Regions from separate parts of the Homo sapiens genome. Here region 2 is linked to region 1. A link means that fine-mapping ties the variant in region 1 to the plasma level of a protein whose gene starts in the linked region. Region 1 holds a variant in brackets. A gene starts in the other region. All regions are shown on their forward strands.

Region 1 (5,386 bases):
AAATTGAGAATAAAATACCAAGTTTTATCCATTGAAGAGAGAAAAATAAAATTTATAAGTTGGGTTTATGTTAGAATCAGGGAATCTATTCTAGCATTGCAGGGTTTCCATTTATTTCTAAAACTGAGAATGAGGTAGTGTAGAGTTTTATAGAAGAGCTTGCTTTTTGATCCCCTTCACCTGTTTACAGCAGAAGTGCAAGATTGGAAGAACAGTAAAGCTGTGTTTTACTTCTAGAAAGCTGCACAATACTTCATATATCCAAAAATACTGATGCCAATAACAGCTCTTATTAAACTCTTACTATCATGTGGACACTCTACTTAGTGCTTTATATGTGCAATTTCATTTCAAACAATCACCACGAACTTCTGATTTTTCATTATAATCATTTTATGGATGAAGAGAGGTTAAGTAACTAACCCAACATCACAACTGCTTGGTACAGGAATGAAGATTCAAATAGGGTCAATGTATTTTCAGAATTGCATACATCTAACTACTTAGTTTTCTGTTTTTATTTCCGTTTCCTTTTCAAGATCACATTAAAAACCAGCTTACATGGTGCAAGCCTTCCACACATGTTCAGTAGATTACCAGGAACTGCAGGAGCCATTTGTCCGCTGAGACATCACTGAGACTTTCGTAGGTGTTCCATTAGATGAGCCTTTACTTAATTGGTGAACTCTTTTCTGCGGCTACCTTCCATTATTCTTTCAACCTTTTTTTCCAAACCTCTTCTATGAAGTGCCTCCTTTTTCTCTTTCATACAGTATAAGTACCAATACCAAGAACCAGTCACAAGTTCCTCTTATTTTTGGCCTCTTCAGTTCTGTTTCTGTATATGTTTCACATTCCTTGTTTTTTCCTCTGAGATAGTACATACATACTTTTTCCTGTGGCAAATGAAGTCCTCTTATTCAATCCCATCTTCAAATACACAGACATACATACACACTTGTAATGTGTATATATAATTTCTGTATAGAATGTTTTTCCAAGGTGCCTTATTGAATTTTTAGAATAGTTTATGGTAATTTTTAGTTCACGTTCTTGAATGTTTGCAATATATATTGTTCATACTTAAATAAGAATAGTTAAACCACTTGTTCCAACTATTTTTCTTATGTAATTATTTTGGTAAATATACCCAGAATAGTATTACATAATAGTCAGCATCTTTATCTTGATTTTGACTTTAATGAAATGATCCTACATTTTTATCATTAAACATAATAAAGACTTTTAGACTGAGACAGATTTCTATCATGTTACAGAAATTACAATTCTTTTTTTTTTTTTTTTTTTGGTTTTTGGTTTTTGGTTTTTTGAGACAGAGTTTCGCTCTTATTACCCAGGCTGGAGTGCAATGGCACGATCTCGGCTCACTGCAACCTCCGCCTCCCGGGTTCTCACCATTCTCCTGCCTCAGCCTCCCAAGTAGCTGGAACTACAGGCACCCGCCACCACACCCGGCTAATTTTTTTGTATTTTTAGTACAGACGGGGTTTCACTGTGGTCTCGATCTCCTGGTCTCGTGATCCACCCGCCTCAGCCTCCCAAAGTGCTGGGATTACAAGCGTGTGCCACCACGCCCTGCCAATAATTCTTTATATTTTACCAGTAATGTTGCAGTTACTAATAATGTTGAATTGTATTAAATGTCCTAGCCTATCAACACTGTAAACATGAATAGCAATAAGCATGTAATTTTTTTCTTAAATTCATTAATTGTGTAAATTAGAATATTTCAATATTAAAAAATGTTTGTAGAGCTGAAGGAACATCCCAAATGTTCATGATGTATTTTATATCATATGATGGGTGATTCCCTCTAGTGGTTTTATTCCAGTGGTGATTTAGATATCATGAATCATCTCTATGTCTGGGTATTTGGAAGTTAAATAAATTTATTGAGCTTTTTTATTAGTTCTGTATTTTTTATATTATGATATAATCTTTGAATCATCTGAAATCAAATTTGAAAAGCAAATTAAAAACTCCAACAATTGAATATTAAAAGATAGAGAGTCTAACCAACTTGACTAGTTATTTTAGCTAAATGAAAAATAATTGCCTATTGATGGAATCAAATGAACTACTATATTCTAGTCATCATCTAATTGGGAATTTACATTTTTTTGCTACTATTTTGCTTATAAGTTTAAAAATATTGGCCGGGCGCAGTGGCTCACGCCTGTAATCCCAGCACTTTGGGAGGCCGAGGCGGGCGGATCACGAGGTCAGGAGATCAAGACCATCCTGGCTAACACGGTGAAACCCCGTCTCTACTAAAAACACAAAAAATTAGCCCAGCGTAGTGGCGGGCTCCTGTAGTCCCAGCTACTCGGGAGGCTGAGGCAGGAGAATGGCGTGAACCCGGGAGGCGGAGCTTGCAGTGAGCCGAGATTGCCCCACTGCACTCCAGCCTGGGCGACAGAGCGAGACTCCGTCTCAAAAAAAAAAAAAAAAAAAAAAAAAAAATTCTAAATGAGAATAATTTTAGTGTAT[T/G]TTTTGTTTAAATATAGTCATCAATTTTGGTACCATGTAAGAATTACTTTGTATCAGGAGTTTGGAAACTATCTTTTAGTGCCCTCAAACAGTTTTAATATCATTTCAGTTAGATATTTGAAAAACTTGATAAATTCTCCCATGGATTTATCTGGTATTATTTCTCTGTTCTTTCTGGGAAAAGGGAAAATAATGTGCAAACCTTTGTGGTTTTCTTTAAGATAATTGGTCTGATTAACATATCTATCTAATTTAGAATTAAGTTTAGTAAGTTATGACTCCCAATACTGGCTTAAAGTTTTTTACCTTCATTTTTTCTCTCATTTTTAGTTTATTATTTCAGGATCCTTGTCAATTGCAGCAGGAATTAGAACTACAAAAGGCCTGGTGAGTAATATTTTCTTTTTTTGGTATCAAAAAAAGGAAGGATTAATAAAAAATGTATTCTGCCAGGGTGTAAAACAGGTTTTGTTTCTTTGTTTGTAAAAAATCAGGAGCGATTGTGCATTTTACCTACTAGAATCTGTCTTTCAAAAACTGCAGTCAGGCTAATTGCTGACATAGGACTGGATATTTTGGCAAGGTAGGGAATCTTACGCTTGTGGAGGGAATCTTTTTGAAGATATAGAGAATTATTGAGAAGAAATATCAAGTGGGACCGCTCCAACAAAACCCTGCAGCATGAGTCAGCCCATGATAGTGACACCAAGCATTGGTGTTGTGTAATATTTACTGACCCATTGATTATAATGTAGACTCCAACTGTGTCCAGAAAGGATTTTGAGTTTTCAATAAAAGAAATTCACAATAAGGTTATTACATAAGAAGCAAATTTAAAATGTAATTCTCATGCCAAGATGCCTTTCATAAAGCCAATACAATGCGAAAGTCCATATCTGAATAAATGTTTTTTTCTAGTTAAAGTCCATATTTGAGTTTTCTTTGTTCAAAAGATAAATATCAAATTCTGGAGCATGATCAATATGGGTTTTCCAAATCTGGCCTAACCCAACTCCCTAGTGTCCCCTCCGGCTGCAGCCACATTACTCATACTCCTCACACTTTGCTGTGCAAGTTTAGTTCTTTTTTGTTTGTTTTTTTTCTGGTTTTTGGTTTTTGGTTTTTTGAGACAGAGTTTCACTCTTATTACCCAGGCTGGAGTGCAATGGCGTGATCTCGGCTCACCGCAACCTCCGCTTCTCAGGTTCAAGTGATTCTCCTGCCTTAGCCTCCCGAGTAGCTGGGATCACAGGCATGTGCCACCACGCCCAGCTAATTTTTGTATTTTTAGTAGAGATAGGGTTTCTCCATGTTGGTCAGACTGGTCTCAAACTCCTGACCTCAGATTATCCACCCCGCTTCGGCCTCCCAAAATGCTGGGATTACAGGCATGAGCCACTGCGCCCAGTCAGCAATTTTAGTTCTTATTAAAAGCCTCCTTACCTTTATCCATGAGAAGAGAACGTACAGAAAAGAATATACTGCTGAGAGAGATAATATACAAAAGGTATAGAGGCATGACAGGCAAACAGCATTTAGAAAAATGATAAGAAATCAGGCATCAGAAGCAAGGAGTGGCAGGGAAGGACACAGACAGGGCTGTCCAGCTAAAGTGTGAAGGACATTGAAAACCCTGCTAAAGAGATTTGGAGATTATATTATGTGCCCACGGGAATCATCTGAAGAATTGAAGCTGCGGAATAATGAGATCATGTTTGTGTTTTGCCAAGAGATTAGAGTTGAAACCACAAGACAAGTTAGAAGACTATTGAAATAATCAAGATAATGATAGATGGCAGTAAGAAAGAGATGGTGGGTGTAAAGTGATTCATGGAGATATATCTGAGGATGTTGTTGGATTGTTTAATTGATTTTCATTCCTTTCTAGGTCCGAGGTAGTCTAGGAATGAATATCACCAGCTCTGTACTGGCTGCATCAGGGATCTTAATCAACACATTTAGCTTGGCGTTTTATTCATTCCATCACCCTTACTGTAACTACTATGGCAACTCAAATAATTGTCATGGGACTATGTCCATCTTAATGGTTGGTACTGCCTCTTTTCAGGGGATATTATTATAGAAGCAAGTTTGGGGAGTGCTGGCTCTGGCAAAGACAATAATTAATATTCCCTAATTGATGAATGACTTTGGGAAGTTGGAGTGATTGAGAAATAGAATAATCTTTCATTTAGGAGTTAGGTACATGTCTCATCTCTGTCTTTATTCTTCTATATATCATGAGGCAAAATGGGAAGAAAGCTTATAGTTATAGAATACCTACTCATTAATAGTTACTGTGCTGGGTATTTTGTATACATTTTTCTGTTTAATTTTAAAACATTGATGCAGTACGTACTGTTATCCCCTCTAAAAATGGGGCCCTGATGTCAGTCCCTATTCTCTAATAATGAAGTAAAATTGTCTTGAACAGTATTTTACAAGTGGTGAGTAGCTCAGTATCCTTTCCAACATCTTTGGATGTTCTTGCAAGGTTAACCACTTTTATCCTCAACATCTAGCTCCTGATAAATCTCAGTCTTCATTATGACTTTTACTACTTTTTTGTACCAATTGTTCTTATCTTAATGCTATCCTAATTGCTTTATTCTGAAAATGCCACCTACACAATATTTTGTAGGTAGTAAAACTTCTTGATATTTTGGGCCATTGGGTAATTGTGGGGAGGAAAAGTTATTGCAGCACATCACAGCAGACTAAAATGCACAATTAAATCTTTATTATTAAAAAGCCTGGCAGGGCGCAGTGGCTCACGCCTGTAATCCCAGCACTTTGGGAAGATGAGGTGGGTGGGTCACCTGAGGTCAGGAGTTCAAGACCAGCCTGGCCAACATGATGAAGCCCCGTCTCTACT
Region 2 (5,344 bases), not on the chromosome of region 1:
ACTCCCCGGCCCTTCCCTTATGTGACCAGGCACGGACAATTGGGAGCGCAAAAATCCAATGAACTGTCCAGCCAACTGGAGTTGGCAGGGAGATGGCCAGGACAAAGTTATCCAGACAAGACTTATCCATACTAGAGTCCTAGAATCTCCCAGGTGGAAGGGGTTCGAAAGTCAAACGCAGTTCCCTGGCCTCATTTTTCACCAGGGAAAAGAGAGGCCCGACACAGCGGATTCCTTTGTCATTATCTGTAAGCCGCATCCCTGGGGGCGGCAGGGCTGTCACCCGATGTCCCGAGTCCCAGCCCAAAAGCCCCAGCGCAGAGACAGCAGGGCCGCATCCCCCTGTCCCGCCAGGGCGCAGCGGAAGAAGCCGCCCCTCTGCCCAGCCCGGTCCCCGGGGCTTTGTCTAAGTTTGTCAACAGTGGAGGTGGAGGGCGGGCGCCGGGCAAACTTCCGAGCGGCGCGGGGAGGAGGGGCGAGGGGCAGAGGGCGGCGCGATCCACTCACCCAGGGCGACGAGGAGGCTGGGGGCGCAGAGCAGCGCGCCGCACAGCGCGGCCAGCAGGCGGGGGCGCGGCATGCTGCGGGGACGCGGGCGCTGGAATGGGCACGCTGGGCTGCTCAGACCCCGCGGGGTTCTGGCGCCTTCTCCTCTGGGACCGGAATAAATCAGGCGGCTCAGCACCTCCCACTGGCCGTGCGCTCCGCCCAAGCTGGCCAGAGGCGGACTGGGGGCGGGGCTCCGCGGCTGGGAGGGAATTGGTTGAAAGGAATTGGGGGGCGCGGGGGTGGTCCGCGATATCTGCCTCTTCCGCCACTGCCACACCGGCGTCCCGCGTCGTGCCAACGGCCGGGTCACGAGTCTTGAGTCTGTTGGGCGGGAAAAGTTCAGGAGTTTTGTTTTTAAGATTTTTAGACTTGAAAAGATGCTAACTCTTTATTCATAATCAGATAGATGCAAATTAAAACTACAATGAGCATCGTGTTTCCCTTCTCGGATCGGCAAGTATCAAGATGTTAACAAGGTTAGTGGAGGCTGTGGGGAACAGGTCCAAGCATGCTTCGCTGAAGACAGTATAAATTAGTTCAACTTCCCTAGAGGGCTATTTGGTAACACCTATCAAAACGACAAATGCTGACACCTTAAGACCTAGCATTTCCACATAGAGAGATTCATTCTACAGAAACTCCCATGTGCAAAATGACAGATATACAAAGATAGCATAGCAACATTGTCTGAAATGGTAAAATACTAAAAAAAAAAAATCAGCGAAGGTTTCTGTAAAGGGCCTAATAGAAAATGTTCTCTGATATGTAGGCCCTGAGTCTCTGTAGCAGCTATTCATCTCTGCCTTTGTTGCAAGAAAGGCACCATAGACAAAATGCGAGGAAATGGGCACCTGTTTGCCGAAAGGGAATAAAACAAAGCAAGCCTGTCACCGTTGACTTTTTACTAAATGATTTGTACTTATCATGTGCAAATATTACCTGTTTACAAATAAGTGATTTTAATAATAGTGTTTTGGCTGGGTGCGGTGGCTCACACCTGTAATCCCAGCACTTTGGGAGGCCGAGGCACGTGGAACACCTGAGGTCGGAGTTCAAGACCAGCCTGGCCAAGATGGTGAAACCCCGTCTCTACTAAAAATACAAAAATTAGCCGGGCGCAGTGGCAGGTGCCTGTAATCCCAGCTACTCGGGAGGCTGAGGCAGGAGAATCGCTTGAACCCAGGCGGCAGAGGTCCCAGTGAGCCGAGATCATGCCACTGCACTCCAGCCTGGGTGACACAGTGAGACTCTGTCTCTAATAATAATAATAATAATAATAATAATAATAATAATAATAATGCTTCAGGCTGGGAGTGGTGACTCAAGCCTGTAATGCCAGCTCTTGGGGAGGCCGAGGTAGGCATATCACTTAAGCTCAAGAGTTCGAGACCTTCCTGGGCAACATGGCAAAACCCTGTTTCTACAAAAAAAGAAATACAAAAATATTCCAGGCGCATGCCTGTAGTCCCAGCTACTCAGGAGGCTGAGGTGGGAAGATCGCTTGATCCCAAGAGGTCGAGGCTGCAGTGAGCCACGATTGCACCACTGCACTCCAGCCTGGGCAACAGAGCGAGACTGTCTCAAAAAATAATAACAATACTAATACTAATAAGTATTTAAGTCAGACTAGCCAACAAACAAAATAGAACAGTCACACATCTCCCCTCCTAGCTGTGTTGAGACCTAAGTTGGGACTAGAGTCCACTGGCAAGATGCCCTTCTTAAAATATTCAGAAGCGGGTACTGGGCGTGGTGGCTCATGCCTGTAATCCCAACATTTTAGGAGGCCGAGGCAGGCGGATCACGAGGTCAGGAGATCGAGACCATCCTGGCTAACACAGTGAAACCTCGTCTCTACTAAAAATACAAAAAAAAAATTAGCCGAGCGTGATGGTGGGTGCCTGTAGTCCCAGCTGCTCAGGAGGCTGAGGCAGGAGAATGGCGTGAGCCCGGGAGGCGGAGCTCGCAGTGAGCCGAGATCGCGCTACTGCACTCCAGCCTGGACAACAGAGCAAGACTCCGTCTTAAAAAAAAAAAAAACATATATATATATATGGGGAAAAGACATATAGGATCAACTCAATAATCACAGAAAAAGCATTTGATAATATCCAACACGTCTTCGTGATAAAACACTCAACAAACTAGAAGTGAAAGGGAGCTTCCTCAACCTGATTTTTAAAAATCTATGAAAAACCGATGGGTACAGTGGCTCACGCCTGCAATCCCAACACTCTGGGAGGCTTAGGCGGGCAGATCAGCTGAGGTCAGCAGTTCGAGACCAGCCTGACCAACATGGTGTAACCTGGTCCCTACTAAAAATACAAAAAGTAACCAGGCATGGTGGTGCACACCTGCAATCCCAGCTACTCAAGAGGCTGAGGCACAAGAATCGCTTGAATCTGGGAGGCGGCAGTTGCAGTGAGCCGAGATTGCACCCCTGCTCTCTAGCCCGGGTGACACAGTAAGACTCTGTCTCAAAAAAAAAAAAAAAAGTGTGTATATATATATATATATGTATATATATATATATGTGTATATATATATGTATATATATATGTGTATATATATGTGTATATATATGTGTATATATATATGTATATATATGTGTATATATATATACATATATATATGTATATATATGTGTATATATATATACATATATATATATATATGTATATATATGAAAAACCCATAGCTACTATCATACTTAATGGTGAAAAACTGAATGTTTCCCCTAAGCTCAGGAATAGGACATGGTGTTCTGCTCTCATCACTTCTATTTCATCACTGTGCTGGAGGTTCCAGCCAGGACAATTACGCAAGAAACAGAAAATACATCCCCATTGGAAAGGAGGCAGTAAAACTATCTCTATCTCTACTTACAGATGGCATGATCTTGTATATCAAAAACCCTAAAGAGCCAGGCGCAGTGGCTCATGCCTGTAATCCCAGCACTTTGGGAGGCTGAGGTGAGCAGATCACCTGAGATCAGGAGTTCAAGACCAGCCTCAACATGGAGAAACCCCGTCTCTACTAAAAATACAAAATTAGCTGAGCGTGGTGGTGCATGCCTGTAATCTCAGCTACTCGGGAGGCTGAGGCAGGAGAATTGCTTGAACCTGGGAGGCGGAGGTTGCGGTGAGCCAAGATCGCGCCATTGCACTCCAGCCTGGGCAACAAAAGCGAAACTCCATCTCAAAAAAAAAAAAAAAAAAACAACCCTAAAGAATCCACATACACACACACACACACACACAAACACACAACTATTAAAGATAATAAATGAGCTAAGCAAGGTTGCAGGATACACAATTAATATACAAAAATCAGTTGTATTTCTTACACTAGAAATAAACAATCCAAAAACATAATTTTTAAAAATCCCATTTACAATAGGATTAAAAAGAATAAAATACTTAGGAATAAATTTAACAAAAGAAATACAAGACATGGCGGGGCACGGTGGTTCATGCCTGTTATCCCAGCACTTTGGGAGGCCAAGGTGGGTGGATCACCTGAGGTCAGGAGTTCAAGACCAGCCTGACCAACATGGCGAAACCCTGTCCCTACTAAAAATACAAAAAGTAGCCAGGTGTGGTGGCTGGCACCTGTAATCCCAGCTACTCGGGAGGCTAAGGCAGGAGAATCGCTTGAACCTGAGAGGCAGAGGTTGCAGTGAGCTGAGATCGTGCCACTGCACTCCAGCCTGGGTGACAGAGAGAGACTTCGTCTCAAAAAAAAAAAAGAAAAAGAAATACAAGTACGTTGAACACTACAAAACATCATCAAAAAAATTAAAGAAGATCTAAACAAATGGAAAATTATCCCCTGTTGATAGGTTGGAAGACTTGTATTGTTAAGATGCCAGTACACCCCCAAATTGATGTACAGACTCAATACAATCTCTGTCAAAATTCCATCTGCCCTTTTTGCGGAAATTGACAAGTTGATACTAAAATTCATACGGAGGCCTGGCGCAGTGGCTCATGCTTGTAATCCCAGCACTTTGGGAGGCCAATGCGGGAGGATCACAAGGTCAGGAGATCGAGTCCATCCTGGCTAACACAGTGAAACCCCGTCTCTACTAAAAATACAAAAAATTAGCCGGGTGTGGTGGTGGCCGCCTGTAGTCCCAGCTACTCGGGAGGCTGAGGCAGGAGAATGGTGTGAACCTGGGAGGCAGAGCTTTCAATGAACCGAGATCACACCACTGCACTCCAGCCTGGGTGACAGAGCGAGACTCTGTCTCAAAAAAAAAAAAAAAAAAATCACACGGAAATGCAAGGGACCCAGAATAGCCAAAACAATCTTGAGGAAAAAAAAAGAACAACATTGAAAGACTAACATTTCTCAATTCCAAAACTTACTACAAAGCTATAATAATCAAGTCTTCTAATTAGAATTTACTGTTCCCAACCTGTCTCTCTTAAATTTGCAGTCTCTCCTATAGTTCTTATCAAACTTTGCCTCATATTGGAATGATGGTCGCAATACCTGTCACTCGATTGTAAGTCCTGGTATATGGAATAATGTCATATGTATTCTTGTCACCCTAGCCCAGCACCTTTTATGTAGAAAGAGATCCATCAGCAGTGTTACTTTCAGTCGCCTCCCTGTGACCAAGCCTTCTCCCAGAGAAGGAAGCTGCCCTGCTCAGGGACATATGACCCATCCCCAAACCACAGGCTCCCTCATGGTCTTCAGGGTTGAGCCAAGAAGGCTCACCAGTCACCCTCTGGGGTTAAATTAATGATACATACATAGTAAACAAATAAAAACACTGGTAAAGCCA

Which allele goes with the higher level. Alleles are on the strand shown, and positions count from the first base shown. The strength of an association depends on the size of the effect and on how common the allele is.
With allele G in place of T in region 1, the plasma level of the protein whose gene starts at base 640 in region 2 is higher (moderate association).

The links. PIP is the posterior inclusion probability: the model's chance that the variant is causal. The UK Biobank Pharma Proteomics Project read protein levels with antibody pairs (Olink). The fine-mapping took linkage between variants from a reference panel, not from the people measured, so its PIPs are less certain.
Region 2: MFGE8 starts here. The variant in region 1 is fine-mapped to the plasma level of the MFGE8 protein (UK Biobank, PIP above 0.99).

What each region holds. Positions count from the first base shown.
Region 1 is chr11:60,298,160-60,303,545 of GRCh38, forward strand. MS4A4A (membrane spanning 4-domains A4A) reads left to right here. Exons shown (of 7, transcript NM_148975.3): 4 at 2,842-2,898; 5 at 4,400-4,558. Among named protein-coding and RNA genes, the nearest start is that of MS4A4A, 20 kb to the left of the region's middle. The variant T/G (reference allele first, on the strand shown) is at 2,512.
Region 2 is chr15:88,912,740-88,918,083 of GRCh38, forward strand. MFGE8 (milk fat globule EGF and factor V/VIII domain containing) reads right to left here and starts at 640. Exons shown (of 8, transcript NM_005928.4): 1 at 508-640. The coding sequence starts at 580. RefSeq lists an enhancer at 1-381 and a cis regulatory region at 5,087-5,320.